2 separate regions of the Homo sapiens genome follow, and region 2 is linked to region 1. A link means that fine-mapping ties the variant in region 1 to the expression of a gene that starts in the linked region. Tissue or cell type: neutrophils. Region 1 holds a variant in brackets; the other region holds the start of a gene. All regions are shown on one strand. Distances are from middle to middle.

Evidence for each region. PIP is the estimated chance that this variant, and not a neighbour inherited with it, causes the effect.
Region 2: VPS25 starts here. The variant in region 1 is fine-mapped to the expression of VPS25 in neutrophils (BLUEPRINT, PIP 0.91).

What each region holds. Positions count from the first base shown.
Region 1 is chr17:42,387,351-42,395,454 of GRCh38, forward strand. STAT3 (signal transducer and activator of transcription 3) reads right to left here and starts at 1,092. Exons shown (of 24, transcript NM_139276.3): 1 at 929-1,092. RefSeq lists silencers at 433-512, 743-1,022 and enhancers at 1,543-1,812, 5,989-6,258. The variant ATTT/A (reference allele first, on the strand shown) is at 3,965.
Region 2 is chr17:42,770,064-42,778,167 of GRCh38, forward strand. VPS25 (vacuolar protein sorting 25 homolog) reads left to right here and starts at 3,386. Exons shown (of 6, transcript NM_032353.4): 1 at 3,386-3,465; 2 at 3,670-3,815; 3 at 4,583-4,636; 4 at 5,318-5,406; 5 at 6,182-6,257. The coding sequence starts at 3,413. RefSeq lists enhancers at 3,278-3,477, 3,561-4,108, 5,548-5,842.

The sequences.
Region 1 (8,104 bases):
GCCAGCCTGTCTTTGTTTCCCTCTCCTCTGCATTTACCCAAGATCTTGGCTCTGAGACAGAAAACTCCCACTCTCAATTGGTTCATTCCGTCCTATGCAATTAAGCAACACCACAATCCAGTAAATGCAATGGCTCAATTATTTATCTTCTGGCCGACTTTACCAGGTATTTGGAAAAGGACAATGTCAAGAGGTTTATTTCTCTCTCTAGAGCTGGCTTGACGGGTTGATGGGGATTTTATTTTGTCTTTTTTTCTCTTTTTTACAAGGCGGGGACGTGGGGGGAGCATAATTTAACCTAGAAAAAGATGCGAGGGAATTTAGAAAGAGTACCGGTCTGTCAATTTCCCTACAGGAAACTTGATTCTTATGCAATAAAGCCTACCCACGACCAGCCAGCCCGTAAGGCTGCAGGCGACAGACACACCTATTCCTGCCTCCAAAAGGGCACAGCTGTCTCCTGAAGGAGCGGGAACAGGGCAAGCGGAGGAAGTGGCTCAGCGGGAGCCGCCGACCGGGCGGGGAGGAGGCGCTTTCCGACCCCCCACTCGCGCCGGTGATCCCCGTCGGCGTGACAGTCGCTCCGGTGGCCGGAACGTCCCCAGGGCCCCAGGGAGCAGGAAATCGGGGGACTGTCCCTCACTCCTGCCGCCGCAACCGAGTGCGCCCTCGCCCCACGGTGCCCCCTCGAGCGCGTTCTGTTTCTCCGAAGAACGAAACTTCCCTCCAGCGCCCCGAGTCCCTTCCGAGGCCCGCTCCTGTCATCCCGAAGAGTCTTCCCTCAGGGCGACCCTCCGCGTCTCTTCATCTCTCCCGGCCCCACTGCAGCGTCCATCACAACATCCCCAAGGTCCCAGAGGCCCCCTGCCGCTGCGGAGCCCCCGGGTCCCCAGGCCTCCCCAACGGCCCCACCCTGCACCCCCTTCACCTGTTTCTCCGGCAGAGGCCGAGAGGCCGGGGCTGCGCGTGTGCCGGGGACGGGCGGCGAGGCTCCCTCAGGCCGAAGGGCCTCTCCGAGCCGAGGGGGAGAGACAGCGCCAAGCCGGGGTGCCTGTCCAGGATCCGGTTGGGGCTTGTTCCCTCGGCTGCGACGTCGGAACCCCCGGCTCCCCCTCCCAGTCTGCGCCGCCGCAGCTCCGGAAACCGCTGAATTACAGCCCCTTCAGCCAATCCTCGCCCAGCCCCAGCCTGGCCGAGGCACGCCGTCATGCATAATTCATGAAAGGCCAGCTCGTTCGGCCACCCAGAGGTCCCAGTGCGTGTGCGGTACAGCCGAAGCCCCGCCCACTGACCAATGAGGAGAGCAGCTAGGAGAAAGGGCGGAGCCAAGAGGAGACTGATACGCCCCTGTGCTGGCTGTTCCGACAGTTCGGTGCTCCTCCCTCCGCCACAGCGAGGGAAGAGCCGAGGACTTGGGCACAGAAGCCCGGGGGGAGGGAGGGAAGATGACCGGAATGTCCTGCTGAAAACTCAGCTGAGTTCCTGGCAGTGCGTGACGTCAAGGCACTTTAAATGCCCCTGATACAGCTCCCTCCTGCCCGCTCTCCCTTTTCCCGGCCCTTGGCACCACGTGGTGGCGAGGTTGAGAGCCTCTTACCACGCGGGAATCAGCTAGTTAGATAGTCCCCAGGTATCTCCAGATCCTCTGGGGACCCAACTCCTGAATTGGGTTCTGGGGACAACAAAAAGAACATGGGTGACTCCGCCTGCTTTGAACTTCAGTTTCTGCGTGAGCAGGGACACACACACCCGGAAACATGACGTGGAAATAGAGTAATTACTAGAGTGCGTGGGGAGAGGGTAGTGGATTTAACCCCGTACTCCGTTCCATCACTTCAAGCATCAAACGCCGACCAGCTAGCCCATTGGCCCGTACAGGCGAATGCAGAAGACGGTGTATACGAAAGCTGATAACGTGTAGGGCTTGACATTTTTATGCGTCTGAATTGAAATACATGAAATGTTCTGCCTTTTTCTTTTCCACCTTGCCTACTTGGTATGCAAGTTTTACTGAATTGAAGCCAGTGGTTGATAGGAAATGTAGACATTTTGCCTTTCATAATAGAGGATGAACTTTGCATAATGGAGTGATTTCTGTGTATGTGCTGATACTATCAGGGTTTTTAATTTTTATTTTTTTGGGTCTTTAAAAATATGTTATTAATATTTGTGTTTGTTTAATACGAACAGGTATAAAGACAAAAATCTAAAAAGGACCCATTATCTCACTGCTCAGCTAACCCCTGACATATTTTTTTTCAATGAACCTAATACATGTTCCTGTTTAGAAAATGCAGACCGTTCAGAAAGGTCAAAAATATTAAATGAAAATCTTTCCCTACCCCCATCATTCCTTCTCCCCAAGGATAGCTGTTCTTATTAATTTCTAGTGAGAAAAATCAATGACTCTTAACCTTTGAAGGCAGTCACAGATCCTTCTGAGTGTTTGAAGGAGACTAGATTCTAGCCCCAGAAACAATACAAGGTTTTACTCACATGGTTCCCCAGATACCTGAAGCCTGTCTAAGTCTACAGATTCAGACCGCTCGTACCACCTCATATCCAATGAGGGACAGAGGCATCTACAGGGCAATTCATAGGGTCACTGGTGGTGAGAATTGAGAACCTCCTATTGCCCTCTGGTAGACACAGCTCAGTATGGAAATTGCTGTATTTACCTGTAGAGTGTGTGTGTATTGATTAGGCTGTTTATCTACACCACAGGACAGATATCCCCCATCTCCGCCTATAGTCTCTTGTAACTACGCTATCCCGTGCGGCCAACTGCCTCCCTGATAACATAGGGTCTAGGATTTGTTTAGTGATTTACTGCTTACAAAGGACTTACACACCTTATACACTCCCTGCCTGGTTTCTTTCTCACAATCATGAATAGCAGATAGGAGAGGCCATATTATCCGCTGATAGAAAACTAAAGACAACATAATATGACATTTTCAAGATCACAGAGAAACTCAGAAATATACCAGGTTCAGAGTCAGGTTTGGGGGCTTTACGTCCCATAGCTTTGTTCCATTCATTCAAACCCTGCCCTGCTTCTGACTTCTCAAGAGCTGGCCTCTGTTTCCCTCATTGGCCTCCCCACCAGTAACACATAAAATCTACCTCTGCGACTATGGGTTTGACCTGCAAAAATTCTCTTCAGCCCAGACACTGGCCTTTCTCCACAACCCCGCCAAATTCCTCTTGGCTAAATGCTGCAATTTCTGTCCCTTGGGCCACTGCCTTAACCACCTGATTATTCTCTCCTTATTCTATCCTATTCTTCCACTGGCTGCCAGGGACATCATCCTAAAAATTAAATAAATAAACATTCAGGCCAAGGCGGGTGGATCACAAGGTCAGTTCAAGACCAGCCTGGCCAACACAGTGAAACCCCGTCTCTACTAAAAATACAAAAATTAGGCTGGGCACTGTGGCTCACGCCTGTAATCCCAGCACTTTAGGAGGCTGAGGCGGGCAGATCACCTGAGGTCAGGAGTTCGAGACCAGCCTGACTAATATGATGAAACCCTGTCTCTACTAAAAATACAAAAATCAGCCAGTCATGGTGGCTTGCACCTGTAATCCCTGCTACTCGGGAGGCTGAGGGAAGAGAATCTCTTGAACCCGGGAGGTGAAGGTTGCAGTGAGCCGAGATCGCGCCATTGCATTCTAGCCTGGACAACAAGAGCGAAACTCCATCTCAAAACAAAAGTAAAAATTAGCTAGCCATGGTGGCACGTGCCTGTAGTCCCAACTACTCAGGAGGCTAAGGCAGGAGAATTGCTTGAACCCAGGAGGTGGAGGTTGCAGTGAGCCCAGATCCCTCCACTGCACTCCAGCCTAGGCGATAGAGCAAGACCCTGGCTCAAAAAAAAAAAAAAAAAAAAATTCAATCATGTCACAGTCGGCTTAAAAATCTCTATGGTTCCCTACTACCGGCAAGATAAAATCCAAGTTA[ATTT/A]TTTTTTTTTTTTTTTTTTTTGAGACAGAGTTTCCTCTTGTCGCCTAGGCTGGAATGCGATGGTATGATCCTGGGTCACTGCAACCTCCGCCTCCCAGGTTCAAGCAATTCTCCTGCCTCAGCTTCCCAAGTAGCTGGGACTACAGGTGCCCACCACCATGCCCAGCTAATTTTTGCATTTTTAGTAGAGACGGGGTTTTACTGTGTTGGCTAGGCTGGTCTTGAACTCCTGACCTCAAGTGATCCGCCCACCTCAGCCTCCCAAAGTGCTGGGAGCCACCGTGTCCGGCCAATCCAAGTTAAATTTTAAAAATGCTGACCAGGCACAGTGGCTCATGCCTGTAATCCTAAAGCTTTGGGAGACCGAGGCAGGAAGATCATTTGAGGCCAGGAGTTCGAGATCAGCCTGGGCAACATGGCAAAACACCAACTTTACAAAAAATTAGCCGGGCGTGGTGGTGGCATGCCTGTAGTCCCAGCTATTCTGAGGACTGAGGCAGGAGGATCACTTGAACTTAGAAAGAAGTTCGAAGTTACAGTGAGCTATGACTGTTCTACTGTACTGTAGTCTGAGCAACAGAACAAGACCAACCTTGTCTCAAAAACAAACAATAAACAAAAAGCTGACCATTTAATTCAGTGCCATGGCTGGGCGCGGTGGCTCATGCCTGTAATCCCAGCATTTTGGGAGGCCGAGGCGGGCGAATCCTGAGGTCAGGAGTTCGAGACCAGCCTGGCCAACATGATGAAACCCCGTCTCTACTAAAAATACAAAAAAATTAGCTGGGCATAGTGGCGGGTGCCTGTAATCCCAGCTACTTGGGAGGCTGAGGCAGGAGAATCGTTTGAACCCGGGAGGCAGAGGTTGCAGTGAGCCGAGATCATGCCACTGCACTCCAGCCCAGGCAACAAAGTGAGACTCTGTCTCAAAAAAAAAAAGAAAAAAGAAAAAAACACCATAATTCAGTGCCATGCATGTGGTAGGAGCTCAATTGATGTTCCTTCTTTCTCCCTCTTTATTTGAATCATAAAATCCTACAGGCCCAGCACAGTGGCTCACGCCTGTAATCTCAGCACTTTGAGAGGCCGAAGCGGGTGGATCACCTGAGGTCAGGAGTTCAAGACCAGCCTGACCAACATGGTGAAAGTCTGTCTCTACTAAAAATACAAAAATTAGCCAAGCGTGTTGGCGGGCACCTGTAATCCCAGGTACTCGGTAGGGTGAGGCAGAAGAATCGCTTGAACCCAGGAGACAAAGGTTGCAGTGAGCTAAGATTGCACCATTGCAATCCAGCCTGGGTAATACAGTGAGACTCTGTCTCAAAAAAAAGATAAATTCCACAAAGGCTGACCTGAATCCCCCCTTTTCTAACCTAGTCCCACAAACCCTACTAAATGTGTTACCTTCCTCCAAACATGTCTACACCTTCTGCAACTTCATGCCTCTGTGGATAGTCTTCCTTCTACCTGGAATCTCTTTCCTCAGTCCCTACCTGAGAACTCTTACTCATTCTTCAAAGCCCTGTTGCAACATCACCTCCTCTAGGCTTCCTTCTATTCTTACTGGCAAAGTTAATCTCCTACCAGACTCCTTCGGCAGGTTGTTTCCCCATCTAGAATACATTCTCTACCTTGAATTCTAATAAATCCACATATTGGCCTACTTCCTGAAAAAAAACAATAATTAACATTGATTAAGTAATTACTACTATATTCCAGGAACTGTGCTAAGCATTTTACATAGATTATCTCATTTGATCCTCACCAGAACCCAGTGAGGGTAATATTATAATTCTTATTTTACAATTGAGGAAACGAAGACTGAGAAAGTGAAAGACTGGCTCAAGACTGGTCTCACAGCTAGAAACTAGGTGGAAACTCAGAATGAAAATCAGGTCTGGCTGACTCTCTGGCCACGTGCTAACAAACATCTTCCCCTAAACTGTGGGTTCCTGGAAACTTGAACCCCTTAAGCCCTGTCTTCATAATCTCAGCATCTATCATCTAGCCTAGAGCTCACCTAAGACTGAATTAATTAAATATTAATAAATAAGTCTTGAGGCCTGACGTGGTGGCTCATCCTGTAGTCCTAGCACTTTGGGAGGCTGAGGCAGGCGGATCACTTGAGGTCAGGAGTTTGAAACCAGCCTGGCCAACGTGGTGAAACCTTGTCTCTACTAAAAATACAAAAATTAGCTGGGCATGGTGGCGGGTGCCTGTAATCCCAGCTACTTGGGAGTCTGAGGGAGGAGAATCGCTTGCACCTGGGAGGTGGAGGTTGCAGTGAGCCGAGGTAGCACCACTGCACTCCAGCCTGGGCGACAGAGCGAGACTCTGTCTCCAAAAAAAGTCTTGAATAATGACATCAGCATTAACAAACACAGAGTGTTGAATATGTACTAGCCACTGTTCTAAGAATGTAATTCATGTAACATATCTGTGAACTCATTTAATCCTTACAATAACCCCATGAGGCAAATACTGTGACTTTATAGATGCAGAAAATGAGACTTACCTAAGGCTAAGTCACTTCCCCAAGAACATACAGCTGGTAAATGGCAGAGCCAGGATTCAAATTCAAGCACAGTTTGTCTAAATTGAGAGCTTTATATCTGTTTTTCCTTAATTATAACTATATTTGTGTCCAAAATTCTCGTTAACCCTGTGAGAACTGCTTCACCTCTTCCCCGAAGGAATTAGCAGTAAAACCCAAAGTCAAGAGGAAAGCATAGCAAGAAAGAGAACCTTGGGGATGGTAAGTGGGTGGCAAGTCACTGTGGTGACCAAAGGGAGTAAGGGGCAACCTGTGAGGGTGATGAGATCTTCATGGGGTTCAGCAACAGAAAGGCTCACCCAGGGCTGCCCAAAACTCCCACTAATATCACAGTGAAGAGCAGGTCTGCGCAACACAAACTCTTTGGGCCTTCTCTCTGCCAAAACACCTCAGGCATCGTTATGCAGATATGTCTCTTTCCTTCAGTCTGAACAGTCCTCCCCACTCAATATTTTCTTTTTTTTTTTCCTTTTTTGTTTGTTTGTTTTGAGACGGAGTCTCGCTCTGTCGCCCAGGCTGGAGTGCAGTGGCGCAATCTGGGCTCACTGCAAGCTCCGCCTCCCAGGTTCACGCCATTCTCCTGCTTCAGCCTCCCGAGCAGCTGGGACTACAGGCTCCCACCACCACGCCCAGCTAACTTTTTGTATTTTTTTTAGTAGAGATGGGGTTTCACCGTGTTAGCCAGGATGGTCTCAATCTCCTGACTTTGTGATTCACCCACCTTGGCCTCCCAAAGTGCTGGCATTACAGGCGTGAGCCACCGCTCCCGGCCTTTTTTGTTTTTTGAAACCAAGTGTCGCCCTGTCGCCCAGTCTGGAGTGCAATGGCACGATCTTGGCTCACTGCAACCTCCGCCTCCTGCAAACTCCTGACCTTGTGATCCACCCACCTTGGCCTCCCAAAATTCTGGGATTACAGGCGTGAGCCACCGCGCCTGGCCCCCAGCTCAATATTTTCAAGGCTATGATGTTTTTTCCTGTATCGCTTAACACATCATTCATACCATGTCCTTCTTTTCTTCCAGTCAATTCTCATGGGGCTTTGGATACAGTTCTTCTTTATCTCATCTCCTTCAAGGCCCTGCCTACCCCACCTACATCTCTGCTGCCCACTAAATTCCAGCCAGTCCACTTCCCAGCTCAGGACCTTTGCATATGCTGTTCCTTTTCCTTCCCCGGCTTTGGCGTGGCTGTTTCCTTGTTACTCCAACAGACCTTGTCTAACCACTCCTATCTAAAGTTATTCACAGCCTGTTAATCCCTATTTCTATATCCTGTTTCCTGTGGAATTCATCACAGTTCTTTTCTATTTATTTAATTTTTTTTTTTTTTGAGACAGAGTCTCGCTCTGTAACCCAGGCTAGAGTGCAGTGGCAAGATGCTGGCTCACTGCAATCTCCATCTCCCGGGTTCAAGTGATTCTTCTGCATCAGCCTCCCGAGTAGCTGGGATTACAGGTGCCCACCACCATGTCCAACTAATTTTTGTGTTTTTAGTAGAGACGGGGTTTCACCATGTTGGCCAGGCTGGTCTCAAACTCCTGACCTCAGGTGATCTGCCTGTCTTGGCCTCCCAAAGTGCTGA
Region 2 (8,104 bases), 380 kb after region 1:
TTACAGGCGTGCACCACCATGCCTGGCTAATTTTTTGTATTTTTTGTAGAGACGAGGTTTCACCATGTTGGCCAGGCTGGTCTTGAACTCCTGACCTCAAGTGATCCGCCCACCTCGGCCTCCCACAGTGCTGAGATTACAGGCGTGAGCCACTGCAGCTGGCCTTTTCTTTTTTTTTCTTTTACCCAGAAACTAAGGTCACAGGAACTGTGCGCGTGAAGGATTTGGGTGAGGGAAAGGTTGGAAATCAGACAGAAAATTGAGATCAGATGATGACAAGGTCAAGGTTTGTACTTATTTATTTATTTATTTATTTGATACAGAGTCTCGTTCTGTCTCCCAGGCTGGAGTGCAGTGGTGTGATCTAGGCACTGCAACTTCTACCTTTTGGGTTTAAGCAATTCTTGTGCCTCAGCCTCCTGTATAGCTGGGATTACAGGCATGTGCACCAACACATCCAGCTAATTTTTGTATTTTTAGTAAAGACAGGGTTTCACCATGTTGCCCAGGCTGCTCTCCAACTCCTGATCTCAAGTGATCCGCCCGCCTCAGCTTCCCAAAGTGCTGGGATTACAAGTGTGAGCCACCACGCCCAGCCTGTACTTTTTTTTTTTCTTTAAGAGAAAGGGTCTTGCTCTGTCATCCAGGCTGGAGTGCAGTGGTGCGATCATACCACACTGCAGCCTCAAACTCCTGGGGTCAAATAATCCTCCTGTCTCAGCCTCCCAAAGTGTAGGGACTACAGGCATGTGTCACCATGCCTGGCTAATTTTTAAAATTTTTTGTATAGATGGAGTCTTGCTATGATACCAAGGGATGTAAATATCATTATTATTGGGCCAGGTGCAGTGGCTCACGCCTGTAATCCCAGCACTTTGGGAGGCCGAGGCGGGTGGATCACGAGGTCAGGAATTCGATACCAGCCTGGCCAAGATGGTGAAACTCCATCTCTAGTAAAAATACAAAAATTAGCCAGGTGTGGTGACGCATGCCTGTAGTCCCAGCTACTTGGGAGGCTGAGGCAGAATTGCTTGAACCTGGGAAGCAGTGGTTACGGTGAGCCGAGATCGCGCCATTGCACTCCAGCCTTGGTGACAAGAGCGAAACTCCGTCTAAAAAATATATATATATAATTATTATGATTATTTTTTGAGATGGAGTTTTGCTCTTGTCGCCCAGGCTGGAGTGCAATGGCGCGATCTCGCGTCACCGCAACCTCCGCCTCCCGGGTTCAAGCGATTCTCCTGCCTCTGCCTCCCAAGTAGCTGGGATTACAGGTGCCCACCACCACGCCCGGCTATTTTTTTGTATTTTTTAGTAGAGACGGGGTTTCACCATGCTGGCCAGGCTGATCTTGAACAACTCCTGACTTCACGTGATCCACCTGCCTCGGCCTCCCAAAGTGCTGAGATTACAGGCATGAGCCACCAAGCCTGGCCAAGGGTTTACATATTTTTAATTAAGGAAGACCTGTGCATATTTATAGTATATGGGAGAGGAGCTAAGGGCAAGGGCGAGAGGGAAGATGATAGAGAAGTCCTGGAGGAAGTTGAAAAGGGGAGGCAAGAACATATGCCAAAGGGTGCAACACTTCTTCTGAGTCCAAAAGGAAGGAGTAGGCTGGATGCGGTTGGTAATCCCAGCACTTTGGGAGGCCGAGGTGGGCGGATCACTTGAGGTCAGGAGTTTGAGACCAGCCTGACCAACATGGTGAAACCCCGTCTCTACTAAAAATACAAAAATTAGCTGGGTGTGGTAGCTCATGCCTGTAATCCCAGCTTCTAGGGAGGCTGAGGCAGGAGAATCGCTTGAACCAGGGAGGCAGAGGTTGCAGTGAGCTGAGATCAAGCCACTGCACTCCAACCCGGCAACAGTGCAAGACTCCGTCTCAAAAAAAAAAAAAAAAAAAAAAAAAGAAGGAGTAAAAGTGGAGAGAAATTTTTGAGCGATGAATCAAGTATAGAGACAGACAGAGGGAAAACTTAAAGGGTTCACATGCATGGCCTCAATCTCATAAAGCAGGAATGAAAGGCGTTCTGCAGAGAGCAGAGACATGGGGACAGGTGGAGTGCCTTGATGAATGTGGAAAAGTTTGAATAGTTATCTTGAGGGTGACGGAGTCAATAAAAGACAAAGGATCACAGAGCTGCCCTTAGAGCCCGGTAGTGAGGCTAGTCAGGGAATCTAGGGCTTGGCAAACATGTTCTGGTTATTTTTCTTCCAGCAATACTCCAGAGCCCAGGAGTGAAAAAAAGAGGTGGGGGAAATGGAGCAACGATCATTGGTTTGGGAACTGACCTGTAGGTAGGTAGGTAGGTAAGGGGACAGAATTGAGTAGTTTAGGCTGGGTAAGGAGTCTGATAAAACCAAAAGGGGTCCTAGGTCTTGAGACAAGAAAGGCGAGGTCATGGCAGAGGTGAGAGATGGGTGGTTGTGGTCAAAGCCTGCAGCTCTGAATCATGGAAGTAGGGCTGTCTCTAGTGATTCAAGCTACAAAGTGTGCTCCCATGGGTGCTGCAGGAGCCTGAGGAATGGTGAAGTCAAAGGAAATTGGAGGGCCGGGTTGGTCACCTGTTATCCCTTTGGGAGGCTGAGGTCTGGAGATCGCTTGAGCCCAGGAGTTTGAGACCAACCTGGGCCAACATAGTGAGTGCCCATCTCTAGAAAATATTAGCCGGGTTGCTGGGAGCGTTAACTCACTCCTGTAGTCCCAGCACTTTGGGAGGTCGAGGCAGGAGGATCACTTGAGCCCAGGAGTTTGGTGAGACGCCCATCTGTACCAAAACAACAACAAAATGTATTTAATAACTGGGTGCGGTGGTGTGCACCTGTAGTCCCAGCTACTCAGGAGGCTGAAGCCGGACGGTCGCCAGATCTCAGGAGGTAGAGGCTGCAGTGAGCTGTGATTGTGCCACTGTATTCCAGCCTGGGCAACAAAGGGAGACCTTTCTCAAAAATAAATAAACAGATAAATAAATAAAAAATTAAAAATAAAACAAAGGACATTGGAATTGAGCTTGGGTAATTGTGAGTTGATCAAATTAAATGGCAATTCACAGAAATGTTAATATTAAAAGAAGCCTAGTATAGAGGAAACAAAGGTAGGCTGGGATCTGGAGATCTGGGCTTTATTTGCCGTTCTACTTCAGCAACAAAAATTCGCCGCTTTGGGGAAGACATGACCTTTCTCTGGGGTTGAACCAGAAGACTTCCCAGGACTCTTCCTGCTCCAAAAGATAGGGCTTTTTAGGATAACAGCGAGGGACTGGGTCATGACGAGGACTCCTCCTGCCGGTCTCTCTCTTTCCAGAAAGGCTTCCGGAACCTTTCTGCATTGCCTTCTGCCCGGACGTGCGGAAGCGAAGGCCGGAAGTCCTTAGCCGGTAGCTTCCGGGTTTCCTGGGCTACTACGATGGCGATGAGTTTCGAGTGGCCGTGGCAGTATCGCTTCCCACCCTTCTTTACGTGAGGCTCAGACCCCAAGAAGCACCGCTGTGCCTCCCTCCCCTCCCCCGGACCCTGGGCTCAGCCCTGATGCTTCATATGGGGAGGGGGAGAAAAGACCCGTCGGCCAACACCCTCAGTCCCTTACTTTCTTCCTGAAATGCGTCCCGGGCAAGTGCTGCCTCCCGCCCTCTAATTCTGCGCCCCACTCCCTTCACCCGGCAGGTTACAACCGAATGTGGACACTCGGCAGAAGCAGCTGGCCGCCTGGTGCTCGCTGGTCCTGTCCTTCTGCCGCCTGCACAAACAGTCCAGCATGACGGTGATGGAAGCTCAGGAGAGCCCGCTCTTCAACAACGTCAAGCTACAGCGTATCCTCCCTCAGGCTCTTCCACAGCCCATACACATGCACTTCTGCGCTTTCACACATGCCCAGACGCCCCCCCGCGCCAGCCCCCTTTTACCCATGGTAGGCAGATTCCCACCCAAACTGGACTTAAAGAGTGAAAATGTGTAGCTGACATTTTCCCCTGGCAAATGCAGTACCATACCCTCTTGTTCTTGGCAGTGATGACTGCTCGGATGTCATTAAGGTCTTAGAATTTCTGCCCTGAAGCCAAGTTCCAAGTTTTTTAACCTAAACCCTTTTGACTATTTGTATCTTCCATCCTTTTCTGTGTGAGGCCCAGACTTGGGTAACTACCTTTAATTATTTTCTCTGCCCCCCTCCTGCCAGGAAGTAAGGGTCATTTGTTTTTGCTGCCTGATTCATCCCTAAAATATCTGTGGAGAAAGGCTGAAGGAAGGCAACAGACAGAGGGTGAGGAATGACAGTACCTTTCATTTTCTAAAGCTTCTTTCTTTCTTTTTTTTTTTTTTTTTTGGAGACAGGGTCTTCCTCTCTTGCTCAGGCTGGAATGCAGTGGCACAATCACATAAAGCTCCTTTTAATTGGAAGAGTTTCTCTTTACCTTCCTCCTTTGAATATCCAGGAAATGCCAATTCATATCATGTTGGGAAATTGCACACATATGTGTGTGGGAGAGGAAGGGGCAGGTGTTTCTCAACATGGGACTGGCTCTGAAAATTTTTATCCTACCCAACTCATGTGTATGCCGTTCCCTTAACCTTAAACCAGGAAAGCTTCCTGTGGAGTCGATCCAGATTGTATTAGAGGAACTGAGGAAGAAAGGTGGGTTCAGTTCCCCAGATTCCTTATTTTTCTTCCTAGTTGGGTTTTCCTGAGGGCAAATTAGGATAAGTCTTTTTCCCTTTAATAACTTTTTCTCTCTCCTGGCTTGAAGGCCAGAGTCTTCTGTAAAGTAGGCAGCCCAATTCCCAAGTCCTTTCTTCTTTGTACACAAAATTGAAATCTCTGTCTGTGCCCTAAACCTGAAGAGAAGTGGAAGAAGGATGAGTGCCTTGTAGATAATAATAGTAAAATAAATATTGAATCTTTCTTTCTGAAAGCTGAGTCTCTTCCACTCTGTCCCACCTTGGTATTTTTTTGCCTCTTTGTTTCTTTTTAGTTCATGATACTTTTTTTTTGGGTGGGGAGATAAGGTCTCACTCTGTCATCCAGGCTGGAGTGCAGTGGCTCAGTCCTATCTCACTGCAGCCTCGACTCCCAGGCTCAAGTGATCCTCCCATCTCAGCCTCCTGAGTAGTTGAGACCTCAGGCATGTGTCACCACACACCTGGCTAATTTTTTGTATTTTCTATAGAGAGAATTTTTTTGTATTTTCTGTAGGGTCTCATCATGTTGCCCAGGCTAGTTTCGAACTCCTGGGCTCAAGCAGTCCTCCCGCCTTGGCCTCCCAAAGTGTAAGCCACTGCGCGCCTGGTTATGCTTTCATAAGTATCTGTTTTACAGGGAACCTCGAGTGGTTGGATAAGAGCAAGTCCAGCTTCCTGATCATGTGGCGGAGGCCAGAAGAATGGGGGAAACTCATCTATCAGTGGGTGAGATCATTATTCTGCCAAGTATTCAACAGTGACCCATGGAAAAGGTTAACTATATTAGGGCCTAGCAGATAGCCGGTGTTCCCAGATCCAGACTGAGCAAAATGGGGAGGGGGCAGAAAGAGGAAGTGTAGGCCTTCTAGGGAAACCTCTTTAAGTGACTCAATGTCTTTGGCTGCATAGAACCTCCCTTTCTTTGCCTGTAGGAGGCCGGGGGCTATGTGAGGCCATATTTGGAGAATGCAGAACTGGGAACCCTGAGTGCTATTGTTGGCTGGAGCCTCTGGCCACAGGAGATAAATGGGGAAAGGAAGGGAAAAAACCTGGGGCCCCTCCCCCACTGCACTGTTATGGGACTGTCCACAACATGAATGAGATATTCTGAATCAGTGTGGGTGTGGGGACAGAATACTCTTCCCCCTAAACCACCAGTCCCAAACATTCCCAAGGAAGAGAAGAGGGTAAGAAGCATCAACATTCTAAATATAACAAATACACACCATCCATTCTTGAACAGGAAAACAACCAGAATGAGAGGTCAAGGTCACTCCTCAGACACGTGAAGACCTGTGGTTTAGTGGTTCCAAATGAGTGTGTACACATATAAATATAGCACTTGTAGGGTTTATGGCTTTTAGGCCACTCTGCAGAGGCGACAGTGAGTCCTGGTTTGGGAATAGGTATCATTCCTGGATCAGAGGGGTGGAGCTGATGAATTTACTGTCTCCCAGGAGATTCTTGGTTCTAATTCACTCCTCATTTTCTGTATTCACAGGTTTCCAGGAGTGGCCAGAACAACTCCGTCTTTACCCTGTATGAACTGACTAATGGGGAAGACACAGAGGATGAGGGTAATGCCTTTCCCTTCCCACTCATAGTTAATTTTTTGTTTTGTTTTGTTTTGTTTTTCCGATATGGAGTCTTGCTCTGTCACCCAGGCTGGAGTGCAATGTTGCAATCTCGGCTCACTGCAACCTCCGCCTCCTAGGTTGAAGCGATTCTCCTGCCTCAGCTTCCTGAGTAGCTGGGATTACAGGTGTGCGCCACCACGCCTGGCTAATTTTTTGTATTTTTAGTAGAGATGGGGTTTCACCATGTTAGCCAGGTTGTTCTTAAACTCCTAACCTCGTGATCCGCCTGCCTTGGCCTCCCAAAGTGCTGGGATTAGAGGCGTGAGCCACTGTGCCCCGCCTGTTTTTTTTTTTTTTTTTTTGAGACAGAGTCACTGTATCCCAGGCTGGAGTGCAGTGGCGCAGTCTCTGCTCACTGCAACCTCCGCCTCCTATGTTCAAGCGATTCTAAGTTCTTAACCCATGTCCAAGGATTCCATAAGCCACCTGAATTCACATGCAAAAAATCCCAAATTTTGTTTTTGTGGATGCATGTGCATTTTTCTAGGGATAGATTAGATATTACAAGATTTCCAAGGGCATCTATGACCCATGAAAAGTTAAGAATTTCACTTTCAGCTGGGCACAGTGGCTCGTGCCTGTAATCCTAGCACTTTGGGAGGCTAAGGTGGGAGGATTGCTTGAGGTCAGGAGTTTGAGACCAGCCTGGGCAACACAGGGAGATCCTGTCTCTACAAAAAATTTAAAAATCAGCTGGGCATGGTGCTGTGCACCAGTAGTCTCAGTTACTCAGAAGGCTTAGGTGGGAGGATCACTTGAGCCCAGGAGGTCAAGGCTGCAGTGAGCTATGATCACGCCACTGCACTCCAGCCTGGGCAACAGAGCGAGATGCTATCTTAAAAAATAACAATAGGCCGGGTGCAGTGGCTCACGCCTGTAATCCCAGCACTTTGGGAGGCCGAGGCAGGTGGGTCACCTGAGGTCAGGAGTTCCAGACCAGCCTGGCCAACATAGTGAAACCCCGTCTCTACTAAAAATACAAAAATTAGCCGGGCATGGTGGTGCATGCTTGTAATCTGAGCTACTTGGGAGGCTGCAGCAGGAGGATCGCTTGAACCCGAAGGCAGAGGTTGCAGTAAGCCAAGATCGCACCACTGCACTCTAGTCTGGATGACAGAGCGAGACTCCGTCTCAGAAAATAAAAATAATAACAATAAAAAAAATTATAAATAACTTTCTTCATTCAGCATCTGCTATAGATGCCGAATGAGAAACAAGGGCAGGGGATTAAGCTTGAAATCTCATTCCTTGCTGACTCAGGCTCTCTTTCACCCTTTATTCTTATAGAGGGCTCAAGATCTGTGGGTGTCAGCTGAAGAGATTAGGCCAACACCCCCAGCCCATTTATATACTTTGGTTTCTGGCCAGGCAAGGATTTGTATAGTGTTTGATTTTTACATAGCGTAAACACTCTTAGTTCTTTTTCTCCGACTCCAGATTCTGATCCTCTGGATCACCACAAGTTTCGATCTTAGCTGGGATAACAGAGGGTGTCTCCCCTTTCTGCCAGGCCCTGGCTGCCCTAGCAGAGTTTATAGCTCTTGGCTGTTCCCCCTGCTGCCCTGCAGGTCTCTGCTTGCTACTCCCACCATCACCCCATGATTTCAGCACTGTAGCCTTGCCTAGCCCACCACTCAGGTTGGGCAAAGTTGTAGGTTTCCTCAGAAAGCAAGCTCCCTGACTTAGCTGAGCCCCCACAGGGGGTGAGGTAAGCAAGCCTGTCAGGGCTTGCCTGCTGCCTCCCACATCTCCCTGCAGTATCTTACCATATCTCCACATACTCAGCT